3 linked regions of the Homo sapiens genome follow. The protein of the gene in region 2 interacts with the protein of the main gene of each other region in a pairwise test. Each region holds a gene or a part of one and is shown on either strand. Other genes may lie near its edges. The genes, in order: GABPB2, TSEN2 and CTAG2.

Evidence for each region.
Region 1: the proteins of TSEN2 (region 2) and GABPB2 interact in binary tests that used the Homo sapiens proteins (3 or more experiments, as listed by UniProt).
Region 3: the proteins of TSEN2 (region 2) and CTAG2 interact in binary tests that used the Homo sapiens proteins (3 or more experiments, as listed by UniProt).

What each region holds. Positions count from the first base shown.
Region 1 is NC_000001.11:151,114,131-151,125,387, forward strand, and holds part of GABPB2 (GA-binding protein subunit beta-2), read left to right. Parts: intron 1-3,261; coding exon 3,262-3,386; intron 3,387-3,826; coding exon 3,827-4,126; 3' UTR 4,127-10,056; coding exon of another isoform or gene 10,057-10,185; 3' UTR 10,186-11,257. UniProt on the Homo sapiens protein: May function as transcription factor capable of interacting with purine rich repeats (GA repeats).
Region 2 is NC_000003.12:12,499,565-12,510,821, forward strand, and holds part of TSEN2 (tRNA-splicing endonuclease subunit Sen2), read left to right. Parts: intron 1-2,103; coding exon of another isoform or gene 2,104-2,160; intron 2,161-3,697; coding exon 3,698-4,220; intron 4,221-5,589; coding exon 5,590-5,667; intron 5,668-7,143; exon of another isoform or gene 7,144-7,271; intron 7,272-11,257.
Region 3 is NC_000023.11:154,648,550-154,658,835, reverse strand, and holds CTAG2 (cancer/testis antigen 2), read left to right. Parts: upstream 1-5,256; 5' UTR 5,257-5,320; coding exon 5,321-5,589; intron 5,590-6,204; coding exon 6,205-6,339; coding exon of another isoform or gene 6,340-6,568; coding exon 6,569-6,707; 3' UTR 6,708-6,859; downstream 6,860-10,286.

The sequences.
Region 1 (11,257 bases), on a different chromosome or scaffold from region 2:
AGCCCAGGAGTTTGAAATCAGCCTGGACGATATGACGAAACCCATCTCTAAAAAAAAATACAAAAAAAAAAATATATTAGCCAGGCGTGCTTTTGTGTGCCTGTAGTCCCAGCTACTTGGGAGGGTCACTGGAGGCCAGGAGGTTGAGGCTGCAGTGAGACATAATTCTGCCACTGCACACCAACCTGGGTAACAGAGTGAGACTCTGTCTCATAATAAATAAATAAATAAATAAATAAAGCATTATGAACACCATAATTGTTTACAGGTTCTTATGGGAAATAAAAAAATGGGAAATAGGGCCGGGCTCAGTGGCTCACACACTTTGGGAGGCCGAGGTGGACGGATCACAAGGTCAAGAGATCGAGACCATCCTGGCCAATATGGTGAAACCACATCTCTACTAAAAATACAAAAATTATCTGGGTGTGGTGGCATATGCCTATAGTCCCAGATACTCGGGAGGCTGAGGCAGGAGAATCTCTTGAACCCAGGAGGTGGAGGTTGCAGTGAGCCGAGATTGTGCCACTGTACTCCACCTGGAGACAGAGCGAGACTCTGTCTCAAAAGAAAAGAAAAGAAAACAAATGAGAAATAGGCCAGGCATGGTGGCTCAAGCCTATAATCCCAGCACTTTGGGAGGCAAAGGTGGGTGAATCACCTGAGATCAGGAGTTTGAGACCAGCCTGCCCAACATGGCAAAACCCCATCTCTACTAAAAGTACAAAAATTAGTCAGGCGTGGTGGCAGGCACCTGTAATCCCAGCTACTCGGGAGGCTGAGGTAGGAGAATCACTTGAACCTGGGAGGTGGAGGTTGCAGTGAGCCAGCATCATTGCACTGCACTCCAATCCGGCCTGGGTGGAGCCAGACTCCGTCTCAAGAAAAAAACAAGTAGGAAATAAATTTTCTATTCTCTGGGATAAATGCCCGAGAGTACAATTGCTGGGTCATAAGGTAAGTGTGTGTTTTGTTTTGTTTTTTAAGAAACTGCCAAACTTGGGCGGATCACCTGAGGTCGGGAGTTTGAGACTAGCATGACCAACATGGAGAAACCCCATCTCTACTAAAAATACAAAATTAGCCGAGTGTGGTGGCACATGCCTGTAATCCCAGCTACTCAGGAGACTGAGGCAGGAGAATCGCTTGAACTGGGGGCAGAGGTTGCGGTGAGCCGAGATCGCGCCATTGCACTCCAGCCTGAATAATAAGAATGAAACTCCGTCTCAAAAGAAGGAAGGAAAGAAAGAAAGAAACTGGCAAACTATTTTCTTTTTTTTTTTTTTTTCAAATGGAGTCTCACTCTGTCACCCAAGCTGGAGTGCAGTGGCACTATCTCAGCTAACAGCAACCTCCGCATACCAGGTTCAAGTGATTGTCCTGCCTCAGCCTCCCGAGTAGCTGGGATTACAGGCAGGTGCCACCACACCCGGCTGATTTTTGTATTTTTTGTAGAGATGGGGTTTCACCATGTTGGCCAGGCTGGTCTCAAACTCCTGAGCTCAGGCAGTCTGCCTGCCTCGACCCCCCAAAGTGCTGGGATTACAGGGCATGAGCCACTGCGCCCATCCTGCCAAACTATTTTCTAGAGCGGCTGTACCATTTTACATTCCCACCAGCAATTTATGAATAATCCAGTATGTCTACATCCTCTCCAGCATTTGGTATCATCACTTTTTAAAAAACTTTTAGCCCGGCACAGTGGCTCACACTTGTAATCCCAGTACTTTGGGAGGCCAAGGCAGGTGGAATATCTGAGGTCAGGAGTTTGAGACCAGTCTGGCTAACATGGAGAAACCTCATCTCTATTAAAAATACAAAAATTAACTGTGTGTGATGGCATGCACCTGTAGTCCCAGCTACTCAGGAGGCTGAGGCAGGAGAATTGCTTGAACCCAGGAGGTGGGGGTTGCAGTGAGCTGAGATTGTGCCACTGCACTCCAGCCTAGGTTACAGAGTGAGACTTCTCGATAAAAAAAGGCCGGGTGTGGTAGCTCACGCCTGTAATCCCAGCACTTTGGGAGGCCAAGGCAGGTGGATCACGTGAGGTCGGGAGTTTGAGACCAGACTGACCAACACGGAGAAACCCTGTCTCTACTAAAAATACAGAATTAGCCGGGTGTAGTGGGGCATGCCTGTAATCCCAGCTATTTGGGAGGCTGAGGCAGGAGATCACTTGAACCTGGGAAGCGGAGGTTGCAGTTAGCCATTGCACTCCAGAGATCACGCCATTGCACTCCAGTCTGGGCAACGAGAGCAAAATTCCATCTCAAAAAAAAAAAAAAAACAACTTTTAGCCATTCTGACAGATGTGTAGTGTGTCATGTGTGTTGTGTGTGTGTTGACTCTTCTCTCACTTATCTATGAGAAGAGAATTAATTTAGGTACAGATAATGGCTATTGGCTTTTATTAGAGGTCTCAAAAATATATAAAGACTTCAGGCCTTCTTTTGACAGATTATTTCTGCAGTTTTTTTTGTTTGTTTGTTTGTTTTAAGACAGGGTCTCATTCTGTCACCCAGGCTGGAGTGCAGTCGCGAGTTCTTGGCTCACTACGGCCTCAACTTCCCAGGCTCAGGTGATCCTCCCACTTCAGCCTCCCAAGTAGCTGGAATTACAGGCATGCTCCACCATGCCTGGCTAATTTTTTGTATTTTTTTTGCGGAGACAGTGTTTGCCATGTTGCCCAAGCTGGTCTTGAACTCCTGGGCTCAAGTGATCCTCCCACCTTAGCCTCCCAACATGCTAGAATTATAGGTGTGAGCCACCTTGCCCTGCCATTTCTGGGCGGATTGATAAGCTAATTGGCCATAGGTGACCTAGAGTCAGACACCTTCATATAAGAGCTTCAGACTTGGGACTTACTTGCATGGCTTCCAAGCCTGCAAATCTATACCCTTCCTTTTTGAGCCATTCTCAGTGCTCTATTAATCCTTTTTGTTTCTCCCTGAAGGGCCATGCCTTACCTGTTGATTCGAAAATTCAAAGAGATATTAAAAATAATATATCAAGGAATATATTTTACTTTCTCTTTCTTTGCTTTTTTGTTGAGATGGGGTCTTGCTGTGTTGTCTAGGCTAGTCTTGAACTCCTGGATTCAAGAAGTCCTCCAGTCAGCTGCCTGAGTAGCTAGGACCACAGGCACACACCACTGTACCCAACCTAGAATATATTTTAGTTTATTTTCTAATTAAAAGCAAGCAAAACCTCTTTGTTTTATTATGCATTCATCACCTCCAATTGGTGTCCTTTGACTTGTAGTTCTAACTGTACCTGCTGGTAAGGTTGCAGAGGAGACTGTAATTAAAGAGGAAGAAGAAGAGAAGTTGCCACTAACAAAGAAACCAAGGATAGGAGAGAAGACAAACAGTGTGGAGGAAAGCAAGGTAATGTTTTTAGGAGTGATGAAAAGAATTTAAAGCCTTAATTATTAAGGCCTGAACCCTTCTTCATCTTTTCTTTTTTCTTTTTGAGACGGAGTCTTGCTGTGTTGCCCAGGCTGGAGTACAGTGGCATGATCTCAGCTCACTGCAACCTCCGCCTCCCGGGCTCAAGTGATTCTCATGCCTCAGCCTCCTGAGTAGCTGGGATTACAGGCACCTGCCACCATGCCTGGCTAATTTTTGTATTTTTAGTAGAGACAGGGTTTTGCCATGTTGGCCAAGTTGGTCTCGAACTCTTGACCTCAGATAATCTGCCTACCTCTGCCTCCCAAAGTGCTTGGATTATAGGTGTGAGGCACCGCTCCTGGCCTGTCTTTTTGTCTACTGTCTGGATAATTTATGATCAGGAATTTACCTGGTGGTGACATGGCTTACTTTTACAGGAAGGCAATGAAAGAGAGCTACTACAGCAACAACTCCAGGAGGCCAATCGAAGAGCCCAGGAATACCGACACCAGCTCCTAAAGAAAGAGCAGGAAGCAGAACAGTACCGTCTTAAGCTGGAGGCCATAGCCCGACAGCAGCCCAATGGAGTTGATTTCACCATGGTTGAAGAGGTGGCTGAGGTAGATGCTGTAGTAGTCACAGAGGGGGAGTTGGAAGAGAGAGAGACAAAAGTGACTGGGTCAGCAGGGACCACAGAGCCTCACACTAGAGTTTCCATGGCAACTGTTTCATCTTAATATGCAAGGGCCACAATTTGCACTGTGTTCATATTAATCCTCTTTTAAAAAAGGAAATATACAGAAGACAAACATTGTATAAAAACTAAGAGTGTCTTTAAGAAGAAAACTATAGCAGGGTACAATGCTTGGGCTCAGGAAGTTTCTCTGTGCAACTAGAAAATTCAAAGCCATATTTAGGGAACATTTTTTCTGAGGGGCCAAAAGAATAAAGGACCAAATTTCTTAGCTCATATCATTGCTTTAAACATAGAAGTAAAAGAATACTGCATGTTGTGGGTTGATTTTTTTTTTTTAAATAACTGACTTTCTCACAAAAGATTTTAAGATAACATTTCTAATATATATGCACCAATATATATGCCTTTAATAATTATACCATCAAGTGACCTGAAAATGCCCCTTAGATTTATGATGCGTATCTGTTGGAAAAACCAATTGGAAGGGAAGTTAGACAAGCTTTGGGGAAGAGAAAAGGAATATAGTCCATTTCCAAAGGAGCAGGAACTCCCAACCTTAAGTTAATTTCACTGAAGAGAATTTTCCCTTTTTTTTTTTTTTTTTGAGACACGGTCTGACTCTGTCACCCAGGCTAGAGTACAGTGGTGCAATCTTGGCTCACTGCAACCTCCGCCTCCAGGGCGCAGCCTCCTGAGTAGCTGGGAGGACAGGCATATGCCACCACATCACTGAGAAGAAATTTTTGATTGTCTGACAGATACTTATCCATTATGTGTCTATAGTTCAGATGCTTGTGTAAGAAACTGAAATAAGCTGCGTGTGGTGGCTCACACCTGTAATCCCAACACTTTGGGACGTTGAAATGGGAGAATTGCTTGAGTCCAGGAGTTTGAGATGCGCCTGGGCAACATAGAAACCTGTGTCTACAAAAAATTTAAAAATTAGCCAAGTATGGTGACAGGCACCTATGGTTCCAGCTACTCAGGAGGCTGAGGTGGGAGGATCGCTTGTGCCTTGGAGGTCAAAACTGCAGTGAGCCATGGTTGCACCACTGCTCTCCAGGCTTGAGTGACAGAGCAAGACTGTATCTCAAAGGAAAAAGGAAACTAGGCCAGGCGTGGTGGCTCACGCCTGTAATCCCAACACTTTGGGAGGCCGAGGCGGGCGGATCACGAGGTCAGATCAAGAACATCCTGGCTAACACGGTGAAACTCCATCTCTACTAAAAATACAAAAAATTGGCCGGGCGCAGCGGCTCACGCCTGTAATCCCAGCACTTTCGGAGGCAGAGGCAGGCGGATCACAAGGTCAAGAGATTAAGATCATCCTGGCCAACATGGTGACACCCCGTCTCTACTAAAAATACAAAAATTACCCAGGCATAGTGGCACACGCCTGTAGTCCCAGTTACTTGGGAGGCTGAGGCAGGAGAATTGCTTGAACCTGGGAGGTGGAGGTTGCAGTGAGCCAAGATCGTGCCACTGCACTCCAGCCTGGCGACACAGTGAGACTCTGTCTCAAAAAAACAAAACAAACAAACAAAAATACAAAAAATTAGCCGGGCGTGGTGGCACCTGCCTGTAATCCCAGCTACTTGGGAGGCTGAGGCAGGAGAATCGCTTGAACCCGGGAGGCGGAGGTTGCAGTGAGCTGAGATCGCACCATTACACTCCAGCCTGGGCAACAGAGCCAGACTCTGTCTCAAAAAAAAAAAAAAAGGAAATTGAAATAGAGTTTTTAAAAACTGAACTGGAAAGCCGAGGCGAGCGGATCACCTGAGGCCAGGAGTTCCAGACCAGCCTGACCAACATGGAGAAACCCTGTCTCTACTAAAAATACAAAATTAGGGCCAGACCCGGCAGCTCATGCCTGTAATCCCAGCACTTTGGGAGGCTGAGGTGGGTGGATCATGAGGTCAGGAGTTCAAGACCAGCCTGGCCGAGATGGTGAAACCCTACTAAAAATACAAAAATTCACCTGGCGAGGTGGCAGGCACCTGGAATCCCAGCTACTCGGGAGGCTGAGGCGGTAGAATCACTTGAACCCAGGTGACAGAGGTTGCAGTGATCCAAGATCATGCCACTGCACTCCAGCCTGGGCGATAGAGTGAGACTCTGTCTCAAACAAACAAAACAAAACAAAATTAGCTGGGTGTGGTGGCACATGCCTGTAATCCCAGCTACTCAGGAGGCTGAGGCAGGAGAATCGCTTGAACCCGGGAGGCGGCAGTTGCAATGAGCCGAGATGGCACCATTGCACTCCAACCTGGGCAACAAGAGTGAAACTCAATTAAAAAAAAAATAGAAAAGAAAGAAAACTTGTTTATGTGGGAGGAGTATATATAAAACCAAAATCCAGGCTGTGTTTCCACAGTGCTGGGAAGTGGCCAGAAAAAGGCTTATAGGGGCTATGAAACTCTGGTCTTGACATATAAACTTTGCTCTGACTGGATTTCATAAAATTACAGTGAGGAGGGTAGTCTCTTGTCAGAAAAACTTGTTTCCAAACATTTATGTAATGTCAAGCTCAGTCTCTCTTTTTTTTTTTTTTTTTTTTGAGACGGAGTCTTGCTCTTGTTGCCCAGGCTGGAGTGCAATGGTGTGATCTCAACTCACCGCAACTTCCACCTCCCGGTTTCAAGCTATTCTCCTGCCTCAGCCTCCCGAGTAGCTGGGATTACAGGCACGCGCCACCACGCCCGGCTAATTTTGTATATTCAGTAGAGACAGGGTTTCTCTATGTTGGTCAGGCTGGTCTGGAACTCCTGGCCTCAGGTGATCCACCCGCCTTGGCCTCCCAAAATGCTGAGATTACAGGCGTGAGCCACCCCGCGCACAGCCTAGACTCTAATTTTATAAAACTTTGTTGAATTTTCTAAGTGTCATTTAGGACATATTGTGCTTTTCTGTGGAGCTTATATCTTATCCTCTTATGTGCAACAAAAAGGGGGTCGGAGGTAAATGCTGATGATGTTGTTTAGTTTTATTTCCTTTTGATCTGGCATGAGTAAATTGCTCTGTTTCCTTAAGCTTGGGTCTGTTACAGAGCTTTGTGCCTTATAGGGTGCTCAGTGTGTGTTGACAAAGGGAATAAGAACTGTCAGTGCCATAAAGAACCAAAGATTCTGGCTACTTTGTCTTCTTCCTTTCTCTCCCACTATGCCTACACTTCCTCTGCCCAGACACTTTTGGAAAGTGTTTAACTGCTGGGTTTTCTTTTTCTTTTTCTTTTTTTTTTTGAGACGGAGTTTCACTCTTGTTGCCCAGGCTGGAGTGCAATGGCGTGATCTTGGCTCACCGCAACCTCTACCTCCTGGGTTCAAGTGATTCTCCTGCCTCAGCCTCCCGAGTAGCTGGGACTACAGGCATGCGCCACAATGCCTGGCTAATTTTGTATTTTTAGTAGAGATGGGGTTTCTCCATGTTAGTCGGGCTGGTCTTGAACTCCTGACCTCAGGTGATCCACCTGTCTCGACCTCCCAAAGTGCTGGGATTATAGGCGTGAGCCACTGCGCCTGACCACCTACCTGCTGGGTTTTCTTTGTATGTCAGCATGGAGTTTTTCCCAAAGAAAGGGAATATGGATGGAGAGAGAGAGGTTATGAACAGGTTATGTTACAGAGGTTATTGCCTTTGAAACTGGGCCCTCATCATTCTAGACTTGCTTGCTTTGTTATAAATTAGAAGAAACCAGAGGGAGATGTGCCAAGTAAACATTCGAATGACTGTTTAGAATATGGTTTTCTTAATTAGCAGTCATGGGGAAAACATGCATTTTTAATTTGGAAAAAACCTGACAGTTAACATGGTTCTGTTTACCTTGATTAGTGAAGTAATTTGCTGCAGTGTTACAGAGGAGCAGAATCACTTGGGTCTCAAAATAGACTGAAAATTTAACTCCCCAAACCAAATTTAACAAACAGAATTGGTTATTAGAGATTTATAGGCAAAAATATCAGTTTGGAAATTAACCTTGGCTACTGGCCACCTTAGCTAGGTTTTCTCCACAGATCTGTTTTCTCCACAGATCTGAGTACTTAACACTTCCCAGATGATTGGAGAATATTCTGGGCTGTTGGGGATGACAGGAAAATGTGAGGGGGAGTAGCCTAGGTAAGGGTGATGATGAAATTGTTCTATCTGCTGTCAAATAATCTTTTCCTGTTTGCAATGTTTTTATTTTTTCTGAGTCCCTTTGGGAACCAGGTGCTAACAAGAAGCTGTTATGTGTGGGATTTCGGAGCCTTACTTTAACGATAGAGGAACCAAGTATCATTTTAGATATCTTTTATTTATGTTCTCGGTGCATATGTTGACTTTAATCCCTCTTCCCCCACACCTCGCCCATTAAGGGGAAGGAGGTTAACTCTGCAGATGATATTCAGGCCCAACCAGCTCACTCTCTGGGGTGGCTACTGACTAAAGGCAGAGAATGTCCATCCAACATGCCCTTCTGACTATACAGTCACCACTTTTTTGGGGGAATTCTTTAGCAGATCTTATTGTTCTTTCTGCAGAAGCTATCATTCCTACCTCCCCAACCCCCAAAATCTCTAATACAGGCCAAGTCATTTTTTATGATGGGTCTCTGAGATAGGGCAGTTTGTTAGAGGAGAGGCTAGGGTAGAGAGGGAGAGAATGGAGGTATCTGAAAATAAGTAAGAAAAAGGCATTGATTTTTATTTACTCGGAACGGTCCTCTTGGCATCCCAGATAAGGGAAATAGGATTTGATCTCCAATTGTATTGCCATGGAGAGAATGGCAGGTGAGGATGCTTTGAAGTAGTTAGAAATTAAATATTGAATACATTAATGGCAATACCATTTCATGACTTTGCATATCTTTCTGGATTAGTCATGGAAGTTGGGGAAATATTGCTTAGATCTTCTGGGTTAGAGGATTCCAACTGTTTATTGGCAAGGTTGGATTATTAAGAATCAAATAGCAGACAAAAATGGCTGGGCACGGTGGCTCACGCCTGTAATCCCAGCACTTTGAGAGGCTGAGGTGGGTAGATCACTTGAGGTGAGGAGTTCGAGACCAGCCTGGCCGACATGGCAAAACCCTGTCTCTACCAAAATACAAAAATTAGTTGGGCATGATGGCATACGCCTGTAGTCCCAGCTACTCTGGAGGCTGAAACAGGAGAATTGCTTGAACCCAAAAGGTGGAGTTTACAGTGAGCTGAGATTGTGCCACTGCACTCCAGCCTGGGCAATAGAGCGAGACTCTGTCTCAAAAAAAAAAAAAAAAGAAGGAAAGAAAGAAAAAACAGACAAATGGATCAGAATTGGTGCTTGAGCAAGAGAAACTTCGAGCTTAGGATGGTTGTCTACTTTAAAATAAAGCTGCTGGCCGGGCACAGTGGCTCACGCCTGTAACCTCAGCACTTTGGGAGGCCAAGGCAGGTGGATCACGAGGTCAGGAGATTGAGACCATCCTGGCTAACACAGTGAAACCCTGGCCCTACTAAAAATACAAAAAATTAGCCGGGCGTGGTGGTGGGTGCCTGTAGTCCCAGCTACTCGGGAGGCTGAGGCAGGAGAATGACGTGAACCCAGGAGGCAGAGCTTGCAGTGAGCTGAGATCGCCCCACTGCAACAGATCGCCTGGGCAACAGAATGAGACTCGGTCTCAAAAAATAAAATAAAATAAAATAAAATAAAATAAGTAAAGCTGCTGGCCAGACATGGTGGCTCACGCCTGTAATCCCAGCACTTTGGGAGGCCGAGATGGGAGGATCACTTGAGGCCAGGCCAGCGTGGTGAAACTCAGTCTCTACTAAAAATACAAAAATTAGCCGGGGGTGGTGGCGCATCATCATACTGGTGAGAAAAAAAAAAAAAAAAAAGAGGCCGGGCGCGGTGGCTCACAAAAAAAAAAAAAAGAAAGAAAAAGGAAAAAAAGAAATATCAGTTTGAGAAATGATTTTTTTTTCTTTTTTCTTTTCTTTTTTTTTTTTTAAACAGAGTCTCTCTCTGTCACCCAGGCTGGAGCGCAGTGGCATGATCTTGGCTCATTGCAACCTCTGTCTCCCGGGTTCAAGCGATTCTTCTGCCTCAGCCTCTGAAGTAGCTGGGATTACAGGCACGCGCTAATTTTTGTATTTTTAGTACAGACGGGATTTCACCATATTGGCCAGGCTGGTCTCGAACTCCTGACCTCGTGATCCACCCTCCTTGGCCTCCCAAAGTGCTGGGATTACAGGTGTGAGCCACCACGCCCAGCCTCTTTTTTTTTTTTTTTTTCTCACCAGTATGATGATGACCATTTTAAGAAAGCTTGTGTGGCTCTCTCCTATCATTACAGACCTCCAGAGCTGGAAAATTTGATGCATTTACTGAACTCTTCCTGAAAGTTTAATATGGAGTGGGAATCAGTTTTTGTCCTAATTTATTAGAGAAGGCTTCCTCTTCTCTACTCCTTGTGCAAACCCATCTCTGGATAGCTAGAAAAGGAACTTCAGAATGGACTATATGTGATGACCACCTGTATGCACTCTAGGCTCTTATCTGTCTCTATTTTATGTGGTGACTATATCTCAGAAGTACTACCCCTTCTGAGTAGTACTATTATTTCCTATGCCAATTTTTTTTAAGTCTCTGATGCTGCCCTTTTTAAATTTTTGTCTTATTTTTTAGCCTCTTTAGTATTAGGGGGTGAGGTGACATTCCTAGACTCTACAGTAGCAGTTTGGCATGTTAGTGACAGGAAATTGTGATTCCCTATCTCCCCCTCCTCCTACCTTTTCTGCTTTTGTGATTCCATTGTTCCTATCTCATTGAGGCTTTCCCAGGCATTCGAATTTAGTTAGTAGGTCATTTCTAATCTCTGGGCCTTGTCTTTTCTCTCTCCGTTCCCCTCCTTCCCTACCACATATTTTTTGTTTATTCTGAGGTGGTTTGTTTCTGAAAGTTAATCTAGGTCACCTTCTATATCCTGTGCTTTCTAGTTGGCTTTAGACATCTTGTTCTAGCAACAATGATGGTAGCAGCTCTCTCCCTGACCTTGCCCCATGTGCTGTCCTTCTGTCAAGGCCATTTGTGTGTGTACTGCGGCAGGTGTGTGTGTGGGGGGATGCGCCCAGACTGTTCTCACAATGTCCTCAGTTTTTCAGGTTGTCTGACAGCTTTATGTACAGCGTATTTTTAGAAAAACTTAAATATACTT
Region 2 (11,257 bases):
TTCGAGGGTAGGTACTAGAGATGTTTCTGTTTCGTAGATGGGGACTCAGGGGAGGCTTCAGTAGCTTGCCCAAGATTACGTGGGCTCAGCGCCAGAGCCTGGGAGACATTGATATGGGTGTGCACACCAGCACTCCCTGAGCACCTTCCAGTGCTAAGTATCGTGCCAGTGATGGGCCTGTGTGTCATCTCAGGTCCTCACATCACTGCCATGAGGTGGGTCCTGTTCTTATCCATCTTCCACAATTGGAAGAACTGAACACAGGGAAGTGAAGCTCCTTGCTCAGGGTCAGTATGTGGACTTAGGCACTGTGGCCCCAGAACCTATGTGCGCTAACCACTCTAAACCACTCTGCTGTGCACTTCCAGTGATAAAGGGGCATTCATCAGTACAACAATAGGGAACGGTGCCCTGTGCAAATGGGAGAGGTGTGTGTTCAAGGGTGCAGAAACATGAGAAGCCTTGGCGTGTTCTGATGGGCACGTCCTGTGTCCTTGCGGTCCTGGATGGTGCTGCTTTCCCCAGTCCTGTCACTGCTTCCAGTCGTGGCTGCTGCCTCATCCTTCTGCCACGCTCCCCCTTAACACTTTCTGCATTTTACTTCTCATTTCTCTTCCTGCAACTGCTCCAGCATCTGGGATTGATGGCAACAGGACTTGGCTTTTTAAGGTGTTGCCAGCCAGCTAGAGGACGCCTTCAGCTCTGACCCATGTGTCGTTGTCTTAGTCATTTGTTTGTGTGGCTCTTTTCATCATATCTGACTTGGAGGCTTTCTTCTACATGCTCTTCGAGCCTCAGTCTCCTTTGACTTTTCATAGCGATCCTCTGAGACCCTGAAAAGGGAACACAGGTATGGCCTGGTTCTGGTATGTGACAGAAGGCACAGAGGTAGAAGTGCTAAGTGGCTTAGCTCAGAGCCACACGGAAGAGCCAACTCCAGGACCTAGACCTCCAGAGGCTGCGTTCATCCCTGCACTGCTGCCTCTGCTCTCAACAGCAAATTAAGACATTTCCATTCATTAACATCTTTTTCAAGATACCATATATTGAGTCTGATTTATTTTTCAAGCCACTCCTAAAAACTCCACAATGATATAGTAGTATTGATTGAACACTTCTTATGGGCTATGCACTTTACGTGTCTTATTTAATTCTTGCTGCAACCCCAGGAGGTAGGTGCAGTTATCCCTGGTTTGTAGATGGTCACTGAGCCTTAGAGAGGTGGGGTCATATAGCTGGTATGAGAACGTGATGGAGCAAGGATTGGAACCCACGTCTGCTTTGACTGCTCTGCTGCAAAGAGCAGAGCAGTGCCCTCTGTGTGCTCACTTCACTCCAGATCTTCTGGTCAAAGGAGGAACTATTGACCCTTTAAATCAGTGGTTCTGTCACGTGTTTTGAGTCACGGAATTTGGCAAAAGTTTTGGGTCCCTTCCCCAGAAAAATATATTGTCACAAAAATTTGTGTTCAAATAAAGGAAATTTATAGACCCTGTAGAGCCAATGCTTATGTTGATATGAAGAGCTAAGATTCTTTTTAGACCCCTCACATGAAAGTTCTTTTAAACGTATGCATAGGTGGCCATGTTCCAGGTGAGAAGACACCCTGCAGGTTGTGGCACAGCTATGTTCTTTTTGCTGGTTTTAAAAGTAATACATAACAAGATCCCTTTGAGGTGGTAGTACTCATCTCCACATTTTATAGGTGGGAAAATTGAAGCACGGAGAAGTTAAGTAATTTGCATTGCCACACAGTTATAAGTAACAGGGCTGGACACAAAATGTGCCATACCAAAGTCACGGTGCCGTACTGACTCTCAGGTATTAGGGTAGCCTTACCAGGTGTTAATCTTTAGGATACAATTCCCAGTATATAGGGAGGCATCCCTGATGTTCATCCTCATGTGGGGTGAACAGGGTATAGACAGCTTTGGGATTCTTAGGAATCAGGGTTAAGCAACCACTAGTCTCTTTTTAGGTACAGCAGAAGCCAATGTCCTTGTTGAACTGTGTGAGATATAGCAGTTTGTAAACTATGACATATTCAGTCTTTTTTTTTTTCTTTTGGAACATTTCACAAATTTGCGTGTCATCTTTGCACAGGGGCCATTCTAAGTATATGTGCTGCCGCATCGAGCACTGTTCAGTCTTCTTAACCAGGTAAAAGAAGGTGAAAAGTAAAGTTACATCTGCCTTCTCACAAGCCACGTGTTGTCTTGGATGCCTTTCAGACTAATCACTGAAGGTCGAGGCAAAAAGCACTTGAGTTTCACAATGTCTTTGACCTTCTGATCAGATTTCCAACATCTGGTAGTTCTCACATCACATGAACACATCCCAACAGCCTAGGCATGAATGCTTTGCCCTATTGTTTTGCCTATAATTTTTTGTAACTTGGGAAGTGTTTTGTAACTTGGGTGTTAGCTTCAAGTTTTAGAAACTTAACAAGAATTTTATCAATAAAATCTACTCTGCAAAGTATTGTGAGGAAAAGGGCCATTTCTGTTAGAATATGTGGATGAATCTACATAAGCCAAATCATTTCTCTCCTTATCCTGTGAAAGGGTTAGTAGGCACTGTGATGAATATTTATTGAAATTCTCATTTTGCTTTCCAATGCTAAACAAGTTATTTGTATTATGAATGGCATATCTATCTGAAAACATTATGAGATCCAAAATTGAAAATAATACAAAACAAGCTGAGAGCGGTGGCTTACACCTGTAATCCCAGCACTTTGGGAGGCCAAGGCGGTCGGATCTCTTGAGGTCAGGAGTTCAAGACCAGCCTGGCCAAAAATTTGTGTTCAAAAATACAAAAAATTAGCTGGGGGTGGTGACGCAAGCCTGTCATCCTAGCTACTCGGGAGGCTGAGGCAGAAGAATCGCTTGAACCCGGGAGGCAGAGGTTACAGTGAGCCGAAATCGTGCCACTGCACTCCAGCCTGGGTGACAGAGCAAGACTCCATCTCAAAAAATAACAACAATAATACAAAAAAAAAATCTTGATAAAGGATGGCCATTTTCTTGTTTATTTACCTAAATCACTTAATCTATCAGTTTTAAATTAGATAAATTTTCATAGTTTGTTAAACTGGGGGTTAGTTTTTTTTGTTTTTTTTTTTGTTTTTTTTTTTTCAAATAAAGCAAATAAAATGAAACTATATTGTAAAAGCAAAGAAACAAGAAGTAACATATGCTTGTTGCAGAACACTTAGAAAATGCAGAGGCCACACGCGGTGGCTCACACCTGTAATCCCAGCACTTTGGGAGGCCAAGGCGGGCGGATCGTGAGGTCAGGAGATCGAGACCATCCTGGCCAATATAGTGAAACCCCATCTCTACTAAAAATACAAAAATTAGCCAGGTGTGTTAGCAGATGCCTATAGTCCCAGCTACTTGGAGGCTGAGGCACAAGAATTGCTTGAACCCAGGAGGTGGAGGTTGCAGTGAACCAAGATCACACCACTGCACTCCAGCCTGGCAACAGAGCAAGACTCCATCTCAAAAAAATAAAAAAAGAAAGAAAAGAAAATGCAGAAAAGTATAAAGAAGAAAAATATTTATCTATAATGCACCATTCAATAATACTGCTGTAAACATTTTGGTGTGTCACCTTCCAGTCTGTTTTATGTGCTTTGTTGTTTTTTCAATTTTGAAATTCGAGTGCTGTTTCTAACAGTATTTCTGTCTTGCAGGTATCAGCATAGTGTTGAGTGGGCAGCAGAGCTGATGCGTAGACAGGGGCAGGATGAGAGTACAGTGCGCAGAATCCTCAAGGATTACACGAAACCGCTTGAGCATCCTCCTGTGAAAAGGAATGAAGAGGCTCAAGTGCATGACAAGCTTAACTCTGGAATGGTTTCCAACATGGAAGGCACAGCAGGGGGAGAGAGACCTTCTGTGGTAAACGGGGACTCTGGAAAGTCAGGTGGTGTGGGTGATCCCCGTGAGCCATTAGGCTGCCTGCAGGAGGGCTCTGGCTGCCACCCAACAACAGAGAGCTTTGAGAAAAGCGTGCGAGAGGATGCCTCACCTCTGCCCCATGTCTGTTGCTGCAAACAAGATGCTCTCATCCTCCAGCGTGGCCTTCATCATGAAGACGGCAGCCAGCACATCGGCCTCCTGCATCCTGGGGACAGAGGGCCTGACCATGAGTACGTGCTGGTCGAGGAAGCGGAGTGTGCCATGAGCGAGAGGGAGGCTGCCCCAAATGAGGAAGTAAGTAGAAGAAAATAAATCGCTTCCTCCAAAGCCATCCGTTCCTGGAGATGTTGGCTAATAGGGATGTCTTTTGCCTGCAGCTGGTAGCTGGCCTGTTGTAGGGTCCAAGGGAAGCAGCAGGCTTTGGGCCACAGCAGCTGTGAGGGCCATTTCAACTAAAACCCCAGAGTTGGTGAATAACTTTTAAAAAAATTTATAAAATTAAGACAAGGCCAGTGGTATTCTCTCCTTTATTTGGGAGAAAACAAAATGCGGTGATAATTACACCTGATCTTGAGTACAGCTGAGCAAGAAGGGCTCACGTGTGGAAGTCAGCCATCTTGAGAAAAGCCTAGGGAGGCCAGGTAAGAGCTACGTCATGAAGGGACTTGCTGTCAGAGTTACCCTAGAGCTGTCTGGAATTGCTAAAAATTAGAAACAATCTAATTGCTAAATGGGATATGAGATACCCATTCAAAGAAATATCATGTAGACTTAGAATGAGGTTTATGAAGTCATATTAAGAACATAGGAGCCAGGTGCAGTGGCTCACACCTGTAATCCCAGCACTTTGGGAGGACGAGGCAGGAGGATCACTTGAGGCCAGGAGCTCAAGACCAGCCAGGGCAATATAGCAAGACCTCATTTCTACTAAAAACAAAAATAAATTGCTGGGTGTGGTGGTACATGCCAGTAGTCCCAGCTACTCAAGAGGCTAAGGTGGGAGGATTTCTTGAGCCTGGGAGATCAAGGCTGGGCAACAGTGAGACACTGTCTCAAAAAAACAAAAACATAGGCACATGCTTATTAGGTACAATTGGGTGAAAAAAGCAACACGTAAAATAAAATTCACCAACAAAATGATTACAACTGCAGGAAAAATTCACAGGGGAAAAAGGAAATAAATGAGAATCTTCATAGTGAAAAAGTTAAAACTTCCTTTTCCACACAAGTAATAAAAAAGCACTTCTTGGCCAAGCGTGGTGCCTCACACCTGTAATCAACACTTTGGGAGGCTGAAGCGGGAGGGTTGCTTGAGGCCAGGAGTTCAAGACCAGCCTGGGCAACTCTGTCTGTACAAAAAATTAGCCAGGCATGGTGGCACACGCCTGTAGTCCCAGCTACTGGGAAGGCTGAGGCAGAAGAATTGCTTGAGTCTAGGAATTTGAGGCCTCAGTGAGCTATGATCACACCACTGCACTCCAGCCTGGGCAATAGAGCAAGAGTCCGTCTCAAAAAAATTGTGTTTTAATCATTCTTTATAATATTAACACAATAGAATGTGAATCCTGGGAATTTATAAGAAAAATGTTCATTTTAAAATACATTCTCTATGACATGTAGTGCTTCCATTTGTTCTGTATATATTGTATTTCTTTCTCTTTAGTTGGTGCAAAGAAACAGGTTAATATGCAGAAGAAATCCATATAGGATCTTTGAGTATTTGCAACTCAGCCTAGAAGAGGTATGTTTTCAACATATTATTATTTCAGCCATCGGTCTCTGGGCCTGAACTACACTATATGTGAACCTACCTCACAGTGTAGTTCTGTATGTAATTCAATTATTGAATATTGTAATTCAGTATTGAAATCACTATGGGTAGCTCCCAAGTAGGCCTGCCTTTCACTCCTCAGCCTTTATTTCATCAGTTCTAAGATATGTGTTTGCAATCATTCCACAGAAGATTCGAGGGGTTTTTCTGAGTACTTCTTTTCTCATTAAGATTTTAGATTGTTAGGCCGGGTGCGGGGGCTCACACCTGTGATCCCAGCACTTTGGGAGGCCAAGGCAGGAGGATCACCTGAGGTCAGGAGTTCGAGACCAGCCTGGCCAACATGGTAAAACCCTGTCTCTACCAAAAATACAAAAATTAGAGTGATTGCTCATGCCTGTAATCCCGACTACTCAGGAGACTGAGGCAGGAGAATTGCTTGAACCCGGGAGGTGGAGGTTGCAGTAAGCCAAGATCGTGCCATTGCACTCCAGCCTGGGTGACAGAATGAAACTCTGTCTCAAAAAAAAAAAAAAAAAAAAAGGCTTTATGTTGATGGCTAGGTGTGATGGCTTATGCCTGTAGTCCAGCCACTTGTGTGGCTGACGTGGGAGGATTGCTTGAGCCCAGGAGGTCACGTCTGCAGTGAGCCACGATTGCACTACTGCGCTCCAGCTTGGGCGAAAGAGTGAGACTCTGTGTCAAACAAAAAAAAGAATAAAAAGATTTCAGATTGTTAACAGATGCTGACTGGTGATGCCGGGGGTAGGGGGGTGGAAAGAAGAAAAAAGTGGATTTCGGATTGGCTGAATATTTTGTTACTAATTTTCACTAGCTTTTTCAAAAATACTATAATTCATATACCATACAATTTATCCACTTAAAGAGTACAAGTCGCTATTGTTTGGTATATTCATGGAGTCTCTACTTTTCATATACTGTGCTACATGATTCAGATCATGTAGTGACTGCTAGTTAAGTAAATGGATTTATTTCCTTCTGCAGGATCCCTCTACTTAATGCAGTAGCTACATTCTTGAAAGTTAGCTTGGGCCTGGTGCCATGGCTCACACCTGTAATCCCAGCACTCTGGGAGGCCAAGGCAGGCAGATAGCTTGAGCCCAGGAGTTTAAGGTCAGCCTAAGCAACATGGCAAAACCCCATCTCTACAAAAAATACAAAAATTAGCCAGGTGTGGCGGTGCATGCCTGTAGTCTCAACTACTTGGGTGGCTGAGGTGGGAGGGTTGCTTGAGCCTGGGAGGTCGAGGCTTTAATGAACCGAGGTCACGCCACTGCACAAGCGAGATCCTGTTTCAAAAAAAAAAAAAAAAAGTGGCTAAAAGTGGCCTTCCATAAACTGCATCATATTGTCCCAGTGACCTGGAGTTCCTCTAACCTGTGGTCACTTTATGCTCAGACCCTCTTTTCTTGCTTATGTTGATAGTGCACACAGAAATGTCTTTTCTGCCTTTGAAGCTAGGACCGCTTCTTGGGCTCCCCTCTTCTCCAGGAGCTCTGTGATGGCTTTCTTTGATAGTTCCTGCAGTGTCCAGTGTGGTTCTTGGCATACAGGTAGGTCCCAAGAAGTGCTATGGAACACATCCATGTTGGTAATTTTATAGCTGAGACCACAGGAAAGTAATTGTGGGGGCCGGGCGCCGTGGCTCACACCTGTAATCCCAGCACTTTGGGAGGCCGAGGCGGGTGGATCACGAGGTCAGGAGATCGAGACCATCCTGGCTAACATGGTGAAACCCCATCTCTACTAAAAATACAAAAATTAGCTGGGTGTGGTGTCACACACCTGTAATCCCAGCTACTCGGGAGGCTGAGGCAGGAGAATCACTTGAACCCGGGAGGCGGAGGTTGCAGTAAGCTGAGATTGCACCACTGCACTCCAGCCTAGGTGAAAGAGTAAGACTCCGTCTCTAAAATAAAATAAAATAGAATAAACAATTCAAAATTCCTTTTCTCGGTTGCACCAGCCACGTCTCAAACACTGAACAGCCACGTGTGGCCACTGGCTACTGTATTGAACAGCAGATGCGTAGGCATTCCCAGCACTGTGGAGCGCTTTATAGCCCACATGTACCCGTTCTTAGATGTTTGGCCTGTCAGAACCTCAGATTTCTTCTCTGTAAAGTGGGGGCTATGTAACATCTTGTTCATAGGATGTTCTGGAAATTAAATAATACATGTAATTGGGTCAGGACAGTACCTGATAATATAGTAAATGCTCAATAAATGTTAGTGCCTGCTATTTTTGTCATTATTAAGTTACTTGTAAAAGCTAATTAGCAGCTTGTTGGAACCTTCTTTTTTACAATCACAAAAATGCCCATTGGGTACCTACTATGTGCCAGGCATTGGGCTAAGTGCTACCGATACTGAAATAAGTAGAATGTGACTTTGGTCTTAAAGATAGCCCAGAAATCATTACAGTTCAGTGTGATAAGCATAGTGTGGCATATGGATCTTGTCAGTATCGCTCTTCCTGTTTCCTTGGGCCCAATGCCTGACATCTATTAGGTGCGTAATACTTATTAAATGAATGAATGTACAAGATAGGGAATTTGCATCGAAGCTGGTGGAGACCATCTTGCAGGGCTGAGGTGGAAAGCTTTTGCAGTCATGATAGCTGAGGATAGTAAAGGATAAATGGGGCTTGCCACATGGACACAGGGTAGTAAAGGCTCTTCCAGATAGCTCTGCCAAAACGAATGCCAGATGGGGGAGGGTGTGTCCATGAGTCAGGGTCTGGCCTGGTCCTGGGCCAGCAGGGCACTGCAGGGGATTCCGTAGGGGAGTGGCAGTGACCAGAGCTAGCATCAGTATGGAGGGTGGGCTGGAGGCCTGGCCTGGGAGGTGGCAGCTGTAGGCGAAGGGTATTCCGTGTCAGATGCTGGGAGTTCAGCTGCACTGTTCCAGTTGACCAGCTGCTGTCTTTTATTGACAAATTTTTTAAAGGCTGCTGCTGCCTGCTGCCTCCTCTTGAACACCCCCTGATGAAAGGCAAGAGTAATAGGAGACAGGAGATGAGGTTACTCTGCCTTCTTAGAAGCTGCCTGGCACCTGAGAACATTTCAGAGATGTGTTCCAGAAGTTTTCAGGGAGCACACCGTTAAACCTAGCTCTACTTGTCTTTCTGTTTTGGCAGATTTCTTTTGAATGAATCACCTATGTTTGGTGCACTGCATGTACCCGCGGAGTGTTTCTGTGAATGTTAGTCAGGAACACAGGCAGAATGGGGTCTCACCCCTGCTGTGGTGATTCACAACAGCTCTCTTAAGGGACTCAGAGTGGTGATACACAGCTAACTTAGAAGTCTGCTCAGCGCTGACATGGGAAGCTTTTAGTCTGCAACCTTCCACAGATGTGGACATGCGGCCTTGTAGGGGTGTTTTCATGCCTTTGCCTTGACTCATTCAGAACAGAGATTTGGAAATTTTCATAGAGTAATTGAAGAGCTATAAACTGTATTTACCTCAGTTATTTCTGAGTAGTTATTTCTGAAGAGTTCTGTCTCCATCCGTCTTCTGCATCCTTCAGTGGACACGCACACACGCAAACACTCAAATGCTTTGCTCTTCAAATTTTTTATTCTTATATTTTTTAGAGACAGGGTTTCTCTCTGTTGCCCAGGCTGGAGTGCAGTGGCACCATCATAGCTCACTGAAGCCTCATACTCCTGAGCTCAAGGTATCCCACCACCTTAGCCTCCTGAGTACCTAGAATTACAGGTGCATGCTACACCATGTCTGGCTAATTTTTTAATCAAATGCTTTTTAATTAGCAAGATCCAGTGAGAAATAGATTGATTTGGGGGAGCAAATTTTTTTTTAAATGAAAGTTGATTTCACTGTAAAGTAAAAGCAGTTGCATAATGCTGTCATGAAGTTAGGGCTGTCAACTTTGGGGGTTTTTTTTGGTTTTTTTTGTTGTTGTTTTTTTTTTTGAGACAGGGTCTCGCTCTGTCACCTAGGCTGCAGTGCAGTGGCGTGATCTCAGCACACTGCAACGTCTGCCTCCCGGGTTCAAGTGATCCTCCCACCTCAGCCTCCTGGTAGCTGGAACTACAGGCATGCACCATCACACCCAGCTAATTTTTGTATTTTTAGTAGAGATGGAGTTTCGCCATGTTGGTCAGGCTACTCTCTAACTCCTGGCCTCAAGTGATCTGCCCGTCTTGGCCTCCCAAAGTGCTGAGATTATAGTCATGAGCCACCACACGCTGCCAGGCAGTCAACTTTTGAAGGTTAAGGAGCTTTAACGTTTATATTTCCCAAGTTCAAAGTAGATGTGTTTAATTTTACTGTGTGTGCTGTTGGGAAACTGATGGGAGGTGATTTAATAGGGGTGGTGCAGACCAGCTCACTCATTCCCAGCAAGATTCCCACCATGGCAGCACCCCAGTAAGGCCCTGCATTCCAGGTCTAATCCTTTGCTTGAGGGACTAAGAAGTTCGGATTTGTTAGAGCACAGAAAATGACTTGAGCTCTAGGAGCAGCATTCATGCTGAGTGTGCTCACAAGAGCCTGGGGAATAAACTAGAATGTGAGTTTATTAACATCAGCAAAGGCCCCACCACCTGCCTTTCCATATTGGCATGTTCTCTTCATGTAGAAAATTCAGATGCCGAAGGGTAATATAATTGGAAGGCTGCTTGGTGAGCACAGAGTTAGCCTGTGAGGAGTGAGCTGGATAATACAAGTGCTTAAGGATGTCAGGCTCATGTGTCCTTCTCCCCAAGGAGGTATAAACTGTTTTTTACTTGATACTGAAGATTCTAAGATTGTTGTATGACTTTCAATTAATTATTTTACTTAATGTGGTAGCATGCATTCTTTTTCTTGAAAAGCCACCATTGAATTGAGGTATATCAAAGAGCTGCTAACATCTAGACTGGAGGCAGTGTGGTGCATGCATTGGTCTGCCACCGAACCCTTGGGTCGGAGTCCCATCCTGTGCGCAGTGCGAAGACCTTGCCACCGTCACCAGACTCCCCATTTGCTGAGTTTCCTCACTCACTCTGTGTCACATTCTTTAACTGTGTTGATATCATTCAGCTGTGGCTCTGAGTTTGTTGATACATGTCGATTTCTTAGTCTAACTCCAGTTTTAGAGGCTGCCTTACTGGTACTTCTGTGTATTGTTCGTATATACTTATAAAGCTTTTAAAGTGCGTGAGAAAATTTCTCTTATTTAGAAAATAAAGACAATAGTCCCCACACAGGAGGACCAGGTGGGAATGCTTGGAAACAAAGGGACACACCAGGGTCGGGCGACAGCTCTCCTCGTGCCTGACAGCAGCAGTCTCAGTCAGATCTCGTTTACGCATCGTCTTGTGCCCGGCTCTTCCATTTTGTACCTCACCCGTTTTTCCCACATTTCTTTTCCCGTGCTTAGTGTCCATAATATGGATTCCAAGTATCAGAATCTGGTGATTAGAATGTCTAAGATTCTTCCCTAGAATTTTGTGGTTATTTTTTTACTGCTACGTTGTTTGACTAGTCTCCCTCCCCTGCAATAGGTCAGTGACTTTCCTTCTATCTAAACTT
Region 3 (10,286 bases), on a different chromosome or scaffold from region 2:
ATGTGTGGTCCTCACTCACATGCTAAACCCCATCTTCCCCAGCATGCTGGGATGACAGGCATGAGCCACCGCACCGGCCAGGAAATATTTCTTGAAAGAAAGAATGAGAGAGTACCTCGTGTCTCCCCATTATGGGGTTTGGCACTGGGGATACAGAAAAGCTCCAGACAAGCTTCCTGCCTTTATGGAGCTCACAAAGTAGGCTGGGCTATTAGGCACTAAGACAATTCACTGTCATACAATGGTTACTCGCCATTCCTTCACAGGAAAGGGTCACTCACCCCTACCACCAAACCTAGGAACGGCCACATGCTGCTCAAAGGGTCAACACAGCTGCCTTTCACTGTTCTCAAGTGATGGCGGGTGGGCGCTCAGAGAAGACCAAAGGCTCAAGGCCAGGACACTAGGCCATCCGGGGCTTCCCAACAGACCCCCATCCCGAGTCCCGCACAAGAGCCTGCAATGACCCCCACAGGGCGAAACAAGCCGTGCTCATCAGCCCTGGTAGGTATGGCTGGGCCCTCCCCCTGGGCCATATGAGGCCAGCCTACATCATCCCCACTTAGACCGCCCCACTCAGGCCAAATTCCTAGGAAAGGGGCCGGGAATCTGTGTAGACCGGGGGAGATTGTTCTCATCATATAGGTGAGAGATGATGCCGACCTGGCCTAGGGAGGGTGGAGAGGACACATTGAAGGAAACTGACTGGACGGAAGGTGAGATGACAGAGTGCGGGACCATGGAAACGCGTGTCGCCAAGACAGAGAATGAAGCAGAGGGAAGCCATTCCGGGAGTCGGGGGACAGGCAGTGAGGTCAGCTGGGGGCAGGTTGGGTTGGAAGTACCTACAGGCCATCCAAGCTCACATGACTGTGCTGGTTTGAAACTCTGGAATTCAAGCAAAGAGATCCCTGCTTAACTTTAATTCAATGGCCCTCTTTGAATATAGACATCCTGGCCCTGTCACCTCTGAAGCTTCACCATTCCAGATGATGCCTAATGTGATTTCAAATACATTTCATCCATTCCAAGCAAGTCTTCTCTGATTCGGAAACACAAAGACTGTCTGCCAGCGTGTGTGGACCAGGACCGGCCCTCTGGAGGGGAGGGGCTGTTATGGGCCTCGGTAGGTTTTGTGTTTAAGCACACATGTGTTCTTCATGAGTACCTCCAAGGTGCAGAAGAAAAAAAAAATCTCAGTGTGTAATAGTGACAAAATGCTGATGAAGCAAACTATCAACAGCCCTCTGGAGGAATAACTTTCAAGGTAGGATGAACTGTGTGTGTGGAATTTGGAAACAATTGTTTTTTGGAAGCGGCTGAAAGCCACAGAGATGACCAGGAGAGCCGGGCGACATCTGCCCCGTGGTGTCTAGCGTGGGCCCCGAGGCTCGGTGACTTCAGAGACTTCATCACGGCACCGTCCGCCTCATTACATCAAGAAAAGGTGCCAATTAGAACAAGTTTCAGAGGAAAAATATGGCCTCCAATGAATTGAACAGGCTAATTTAAACTTTGGCAAACTGGCTCACTCCAGAGCTAATTAGAAATTTTCCTCAACAGCAAGTAATGAATAACTTTCTTAATCGCTTTCTGCTTATAAATGTAATACATGTTCACTGCAAAAGAAGAGGAAATATGGGCAAGTTCGGAAGAGAAAATAAAAAACCAACCGTTATCTCACCGCCAAGGATAACGACAATGAAAATGTGGTGTATTTCTGGATAAATGAGCCAATTCTTGTCTAGTGCTTACAACAGTGGCTTGGGACATGGTGACCACCCAACAAATGTTATTGGTTATTATTATTCTCATTGCTAGTAGGCTTAGAAAAGTCTTTTCCAATGCTATCCCTCCCCCAGCCCCCCACCCCCAACAGGCCCCGGTGTGTGATGTTCCCCTCCCTGTGTCCACATTGTTCAACTCCCACTTACGAGTGAGAACATGCGGTGTTTGGTTTTCTGTTCCTGTGTTAATTTGCTGAAAATGATGGTTTCCAGCTTCATCCATGTCTCTGCAAACGACATGAACTCATTCTCTTTCATGGCTGCATATATTTCATGGTGTATATGTGCCACAGTTTTAAAATCCAGTCTAACATTGATGGGCATTTGGGTTGGTTCCAAGTCTTTGCTATTGTGAAGAGTGCTGCAATAAACATACATGTGCATGTGTCTTTATAGTAGAATGATTTACAATCCTTTGGGTATATACCCAGTAATGGGATTGCTAGGTCAACAAGTTGATGGGTGCAGCAAACCAGCATGGCACATGTATACCTATGTAACAAACCTGCACGTTGTGCACATGTACCCCAGCACTTAAGGTATAATAATGAAAAAAAGGAAAGAAAAGAAAGAAAGAAAGAAAAGGAGAGAAAGAAAGAAAGAAAGAGAGAAAAGTCTTTTCCATTCCAACAATCAAATAAAGTTCATCTAAATTTTCTTCCAATGTTTTTACTTTTATTGTGTATATATTAGGTCAATACATTCTAAACACTTCAGATACTATAGAAATATTTCTCTATATAGCATTCCCCCGTGCTTCTACTGAGATATGTATCGGCAGCCTGAGAAGTCGGCATTCCTTTGTCCACACCCATCCCCGTGCATCCGTTTCATTTCATTCGCTCCACAGTCAGCCGCACCTCAGAGTTGTCCTTCAAAGGGTGAGAGACTAAGACTTTTATCCAGTGACTCTTGGCCCCATCGGTGGGGGGCTGTGTCCAAGGGTACAACTTCCCCAGAGCTTCCAGGCCCACCCTGTGCAGGGCGCAGGAGAAAAAGCAGATGTGTTGTGAGCTGCAGGAGAGGCGCTGGCACAGGGCACAGAGGTCCCCACCCCAGCAGCCGAGAGGCAGAAGGCACGTGCAGGGGGCCCAGAGGCTCAGCAGGATCTGAGATGTGAGAAGATGTCTACGAACACAGAGGCGCAGGAGGAGGCCGGAGATGACGGTCACTGGAGGGGCTCTGAGACGTGCACAGAAAACAGGACAGAGCTTGGCAGCAGCACTCATTTGTCGCCCTGCCACACACAGCCTGTGTTTTCTCCTTGACAGCATCTCAGTAGGACCCAATAATGCCAACGCCTGGAGATCCCTCTGGACAACCGTCTTCATCCTCCACATCTGGTCCTCCCCTACACCTGGGGCCTGGACCTGCTAAGGAGCTCTTTCCAGTTTTCTAGACACCTGTGGAATCCCTTCACCCACCCTTACCCATCGGTGTGGCTGCTCTCCAGCTCACTCTCGTCCTGCTCTCCCCAACTGCCTCGGCTCCAGGGGGACGAGGCTTTCCCTGGGCTGCTGCCTTCCCTGCCCCCTTCCCAGTCCCCAGAAGGGTGCCAGCCTCAGAGGCCTCCAGAGCAGAGCCTTGCTCACCGCAGCAGCTCCAGCTGGAGGAGGTTCCCCCTGCCTCCTGCACCCTGACCCCTTCTTAGAGCAGCAGAGGCAGAAGCAGGAGCCTGCTTTGGAAAATGACATGTTTTTATTGCTATGTCTGCAGTGGCTTTTTAGCACAGTAGAATGTCCCCGCAGGCCCGCCACCCTCACCCAGCCCCAGCCCTGCAGCCTCTGTCTGGGTGTCGGGGAAGCCTTTCTTGGGGTCACTCAGCCGTCTGAGGACTGGATGTGGCACAGACATACATAGGTTAAAGCTGCTACACGGAAGACTGGAGATGCGGGAAGTGCATTCGCTTTAAGCCTAGAGGTGGTAGCCGTGTCCGGGGTCCCTTCCTGGGGGTGTGCCTGTTACCGAAATACCAAGGGTTTGGTCTACGTCCTGCTGCTGGCCGCACAGAAAGCCAATGACTGACTGAGACGAAGAGCATTACCAGGGAAGACGGCTTTAATTGGGTGCTGCAGCCGGGGAGATGGGAGTTAAGTCTCAAATCCATCCCCCTGACTAAAACTAGGGGTTTATATAGCCAGGAAGAAATGCACCAATGTGTAGGAAAACAGGAACTCGGGAGGGCCCAGAAAGCAATCCTGATGAATTTGGGGGGTCCAGCATCTCATTGTCTGGATGTGGTTATCTGGTGAGTTTCAGTTCTTTGATATTTTGAGAGGCCCGAAGGTCATTTCCTGAGGAAGGAATTCAGATAAAACAACTGTAAGGTTCAAGCTTGAAGACCAGAAGGGTCAGTTTCTATGTGTATCAAAAAGAACAGCCTATGGGACGATTGGATCGGTTTCATGCCCAACCCAGGGTACAGGATGTGGGAAGCCTGAGCCGGCCTGGTGAGCAGCCCAGACACCCGGGATGGAGTATTGCAGCCTCTCGCCCCACAGACTTGTGAACAGGGCGTGGGGACAGACACCCAGCTCCTAGGGCCATGCCACCCCCACCCCTGCCCGCCTCTCGCAGCACCTTTCCTGTGGATCTGACCCCCTTCCAGACACAGAAGTAAGCCAGCACCCAGCAGACACAGGGTCACCTCCCAGCTCCCTACCAGGCAAGAGCGACCAGGGCAGGGACTGATACTGCCGAACCCAGGAGCCAGGCCCGACCCAGCCTCAGGTCCAGCAGGTCCCGCCTGTCCACCTGGGCCAGGCCTAGAGCCCGGGAGCCCCTGGCTGGTGGGAGGCCACCCGCAACCCACCCCACACGCAGCTCCAGCTCCCCCACCAGGCGGGGCGACTAGGACAGGGACAGAACCCGTTGAACCCAGGAGTGAGATCCGGCCCCGGGTCCCGCTGGGCCCTCCCGTCCACCTTGGCTGGACCTGGCGCCTGGGAGACCTTGGCTGGCGCGAGGCCACGCCCACCAGACATGCAGTTCCAGCTACCCCACCAGCTGGGCGACCAGGACAGGGACGGAGGCTGCTGAGCCCAGTTAGAGGCCTGCCCCCCGGGGTCTGTCCTGGGCGCTCCCCCAAGGACGGACAGGGCAGACAGGGTCCGGGACGATGGCCGCACAGTCCCGGCCCCGTGTTCCCAGGCCCGTCTTGCTCCTCGATGTGAGGGAGACCCGGGGGATGGGACAGGCTGGGCCCCGCAGTGCCTGACTCCCTGCAGGGCTCCCGGGACAGGGGTCCGGCGGACAGCCGGCTGCTCAGGGGTGAGGGGTCCAAGCTGGCATTGCGGCCACCTTCCGGCCCGGGCTCTCTTGGGGAGGGGCGGGGTTGGTGAGAACCGGTCACGTGCTCCGGGGCTCACTCGGGGTCTCCCAGGGCCGGAAGTAGGGCCCCTGTGCGCAGGCGCCCTGAGGATCCCGGGCTGCCCATCTCACGCCAGGGGGCGGAACTTCCTGCAGCCTCTCTGCCTCCGCATCCTCGTGGGCCCTGACCTTCTCTCTGAGAGCCGGGCAGAGGCTCCGGAGCCATGCAGGCCGAAGGCCGGGGCACAGGGGGTTCGACGGGCGATGCTGATGGCCCAGGAGGCCCTGGCATTCCTGATGGCCCAGGGGGCAATGCTGGCGGCCCAGGAGAGGCGGGTGCCACGGGCGGCAGAGGTCCCCGGGGCGCAGGGGCAGCAAGGGCCTCGGGGCCGAGAGGAGGCGCCCCGCGGGGTCCGCATGGCGGTGCCGCTTCTGCGCAGGATGGAAGGTGCCCCTGCGGGGCCAGGAGGCCGGACAGCCGCCTGCTTGAGTTGTATCCTGTTCTGTTCTGTTCTAGGAGGTTCTGGTGGCGAGGTGGGGGCCGTGAGACGGAGACAACAGGGTCAAGAGGTGGGGGGCAGGGCCAGGAGGTGGGTGAGGGCAGGGCCAGGTGCGGAAGGTGGGGTTTGGGAGATGGGGGTAAGGCGCCGGGTGGGGTGGGGGTGGGGGCTGGGAGTTGGAGGTCGAGGGGTGGCTCAGAGGAAGGGAGTAGGTAGGGGATGGGAGGTGGAGCGTGTGCACAGTTGGGTGCTGGGCGATGGGGTGAGGGGCAGGGGGACAGGAGACAGGGGTTCTTGGGTGTGTGAAGGGATCAGGAGTTGGGGGGAAGCGTGCAAGGTGGGAGCCGGTGGCTGGGGTGTGGGCTGGATGGGGGTGGTGTCAAGCGATGGGGAGAGGTCCCGGCTGATGCGGCAGGGGGCATGGTGGGGAGGGCCTTGGAAGGGCACGCAGGAGTCAGCTTGAGGTGCAACAGAGGAAAGTGGGGAATCAAGACAGCTGGGTGGGGTTGCTGCAGGACCTGGGCCAGTGCGTGGGGAGACAGCCTGAGGGGATGAGATGGGCACCGGCCAAATCCTAGGAGATGGCACCTTAACTGGGTCCCCACCAGGCACATCACGATGCCTTTCTCGTCGCCCATGGAAGCGGAGCTGGTCCGCAGGATCCTGTCCCGGGATGCCGCACCGCTCCCCCGACCAGGGGCGGTTCTGAAGGACTTCACCGTGTCCGGCAACCTACTGTTTATGTCAGTTCGGGACCAGGACAGGGAAGGCGCTGGGCGGATGAGGGTGGTGGGTTGGGGGCTGGGATCCGCCTCCCCGGAGGGGCAGAAAGCTAGAGATCTCAGAACACCCAAACACAAGGTCTCAGAACAGAGACCTGGTACACCAGGCCCGCCGCCACCCGAGGGAGCCCAGGGAGATGGGTGCAGAGGTGTCGCCTTTAATGTGATGTTCTCTGCCCCTCACATTTAGCCGACTGACTGCTGCAGACCACCGCCAACTGCAGCTCTCCATCAGCTCCTGTCTCCAGCAGCTTTCCCTGTTGATGTGGATCACGCAGTGCTTTCTGCCCGTGTTTTTGGCTCAGGCTCCCTCAGGGCAGAGGCGCTAAGCCCAGCCTGGCGCCCCTTCCTAGGTCATGCCTCCTCCCCTAGGGAATGGTCCCAGCACGAGTGGCCAGTTCATTGTGGGGGCCTGATTGTTTGTCGCTGGAGGAGGACGGCTTACATGTTTGTTTCTGTAGAAAATAAAGCTGAGCTACGATTCCGTGTCTGAGTCTCTTTTCGGCGAGCGAAGGCACCTTCGGACTTGCATGCCCTTGTCCTCGGGTTGTAGGGGAGGCTCTGGGATTCACAGATTGAAGTAGCACAAGGTAACGGGAGGCAATTTGGGAAATGGGGGAAAATGAAAAGCCACTGGGTCCCGCCATTCAGCATTAACTACTGTGGACATTTTAGAATATTTTCCTCAATATACTTGCATTTATATGTTAAATATATGACAGTAGCATATATAATGTTTTTCCAGGTCAGCATTAAATTTTTTCCCAAATTGTTTTCATTGAACATATGAGCTTTTGTGCTTTCTAAAAATGCTTCAAAAACATGTACTTGAATAGATGCATAAAACCAGCATTATTTCACTGTTAAACATGTGATATGGGCCGGGCATGGTGGCCCACACCTGTATTCCCATTGTTCTGGGAGGCTCAGGTGGGAGGATGGCTTGAGACCTGCAGTTGGAGGCCACCCTGGGCAATGTAGTGAGATTCTATCTCTATAAGAATCATTTAAAAATTAGGGGTGGAGGGAGTGGTGGCAGGAACCTGTAGTCCCAGGTACTCAGGAGGCTGACGTGGGAAAGTGGCTTGAGTCCAGGATCTCGAGGCTGCAGTGAGCTATGAATGCATCCCTGAGCTCCAGCCTTGGCGACAGAGCGAGACCCTGACTCTAAAGTAATAATAATAGTAAATGTGAACAGCGTAAAATGTTTGTAAACACGTAATGTTAACACAGATTCTCTTACTGCTTGCAGAGTCTAATGAACAAGAGCAAGGTTTCCTGTAAAGAAACTGACTTTCTGCCATGCTTGGTTTAGGGGAAGACGTACAGGCTCCTGCCTTTAAGAGCACTGCTTCCCATTGGGGGCAGAAAGCAGGGCCTTTTAAAGGAGGACTTGGCGTGAATGGTAGGCAGGGGAGGGAGCAGGCAGCTGTGGGGTCTGCATGACATGCTGAGGTGTCTTGTCTGCCGGGAGGTCACGCTGGCACCATCTTGGGCAGAGCTAGGTTGGAAAGGGGCTGTTTGTCAAAGCAAAACAGACATATGCTTGAGCTGTGTTCTGGGATGCTCTTAAGTTGCTCGGAGACAACTTGATCCCTTTGAGTTTTGTTTTAGCATTTGCTCGGTGGGAACATAGCAGATTTTAATGTAAGATTAATAATATTAGTTGACAATCTCCAATGCTTGGCAAGGCTGTAGTTGGAAACGAGGACTCATACACTGTCAGTAGGAGTGGTAGTAACATCTATCTGGACATTTATTTGGCATTTTCTATTAAGGGAAAGATGTACATTCCCTTCCACCCACCTTGAGGAATCCATCTGAGAAACTCCTGGATATGCAAATGAGGTAGAATCCACCAGCATCTTAATGACACCACCACGTAAATAGTTTTTAGAATGTAAATGTCCACCAGCTGCGGAAAGGCTGAACAAATCACTGCACAACTGAGGAAGGCGAGGGGGGTTGGTACATCCAGGCTGTGCCAAAGCCGGTTCTGTCTCAGAGCAGAGGAGTTTTTCCAAGAGACGTGGGCACGCTGTGAGGAAGTCCCAGCAGGAAGCCAGGCGAATGCCACCTCCGCATGCCTGCCCCGGAGGGTGTGAGCGGCTTCCTTCTCCTCTGGATCGGTGGTGTGTTAGGAGAGGCCCGGCTCTCTGTCAAGGCCAGGGACGGATGGAAGCTGAGAGAGGACGCTGAGACCTGGGGAGCTTCCTGGAATGCAGGGACGCAGTGAACTCGCTCTGTTTCAGCCCGAGGTGCGCAAAGGAAAACTGAAAGACCAGCAGCAATGTCAGAGAGACCTTCCTGTCATGCCAGCGGGATTCCTTGGGAGCCAGTGAGCGCTCCAGCCCTTGAGGGCTCTGTCACAGCTGGTGGGAGCATGGGTCAGGGCTGTGGCAGAACACACCCCAGCCTCAGGTGAAGAGGTCCCTAATGCTTCCCTCTAGCCCTCATATTCCAGAATTCCAAGTCAAGTCTGAAGAGTCCACTTAACTTCCGTCCTCTCAAACATGCAGAGTGGTCGTCACACGCGGTTAGAGGAGTTTGACTCCTGGTGAAACGGGGAGGCCCGGGCAAACCTGGCCACGAGTCCAGCATGTGCCCGCCCCAGCAAGGTCACCGTGCCCCAGGGGAAGCAGCACCGGGAGAGGTCACCATGCCCCAGGGCCGCGACCCTGGCCGGGCTGACTCAGAAGTCCAGCTGCATTGCAGCTGTAACTGCATCCAGACAACTTTGACCAGGTGCTGAGCCACTGGCCCCTGCAGCCAACATCACGGGCACAAAAGCAGAAGCCCAGGGAGCAAAGATGAAGATCCAGGAGCACAGTAACTGTCAGGTAGGGACCTGCTGGCCCACTGAGTCTGGGAGCAACACCACAGGCGCTGCAGGGAGACCCCCGGAGTGACCCGGGGCCTGTCTCCAGAGGGCGGCCCTTCCTTAATTGGAGCTGCCTCTTCCCCTCCTGCCCTAGGATGTAAACCCTGCTTGGCTGAGGTATTGAATTCACGGGGAATCTGACCCCGCTCTGCCCATGATGCTCATCTGTCCTCTGGGGCCTCATTCCCTGAGCTTCCCAGAGCGGCCTCCTTTGTTTGGCTCAGCTCTGTGTCTTCCTTCCTGAAGCTGTGTCTCCAGTGTGTTAGGCTTCCCCTCTCTTCCCTCAAGTGGCCTCAAGGGCCCAGGAGGAAACGCAAGAGGGCAGGAGGGCTCCCTGAGGTGGAGAGCAGACAGAGAGCAGGTTCTCCTTCTGCCCTGTCTTGAAAGATGCCCCCAATTTACACCCACACGGGCGCCGGAATGGCCAGGTTGGTGAGGAGGGGGAATGGGCGAGGCTCCCATGCAGACACCCAGAGAGGTGAGTCCCTGAGATGGAGAGAAAGGAGTATCCGCGAGCGCACTGCCCTGTGGGAGAGGGAGAATCTCGCTGTTTGCAGAGTCAGCCGTGTGGAAGGCTGCGGCCATCTGTTTTTGCGTGTGTACCTACCGAGGCAAGAAGATCGCTTGGGGTCGAGAGTTTGAGACCAGCCTGGGCCACAGAGCAAGACCCTGTCTCTACAAAAATAAAAAAAATTTTTTTGTTTTTGAGACGGAGTCTCACTCTGTCGCCCAGGCTGGAGTGCAGTGGCACTATCTCAGCTCACTGCAGGCTCTGCCCCCCGGGGTTCATGCCATTCTCCTGCCTCAGCCTCCCGAGTAGCTGGGACTATAGGTGCCCGCCACCACGCCCGGCTAATTTTTTATATTTTTAGTAGAGACGGGGTTTCACCATGTTAGCCAGGATGGTCTCAATCTCCTGACCTCATGATCCGCCCACCTCGGCCTCCCAAAGTGTTGGGATTACAGGCGTGAGCCACCCCACCCAGCCAAAAATAAAAAATTTTTTAAAGTGACATTTGAGACGTAC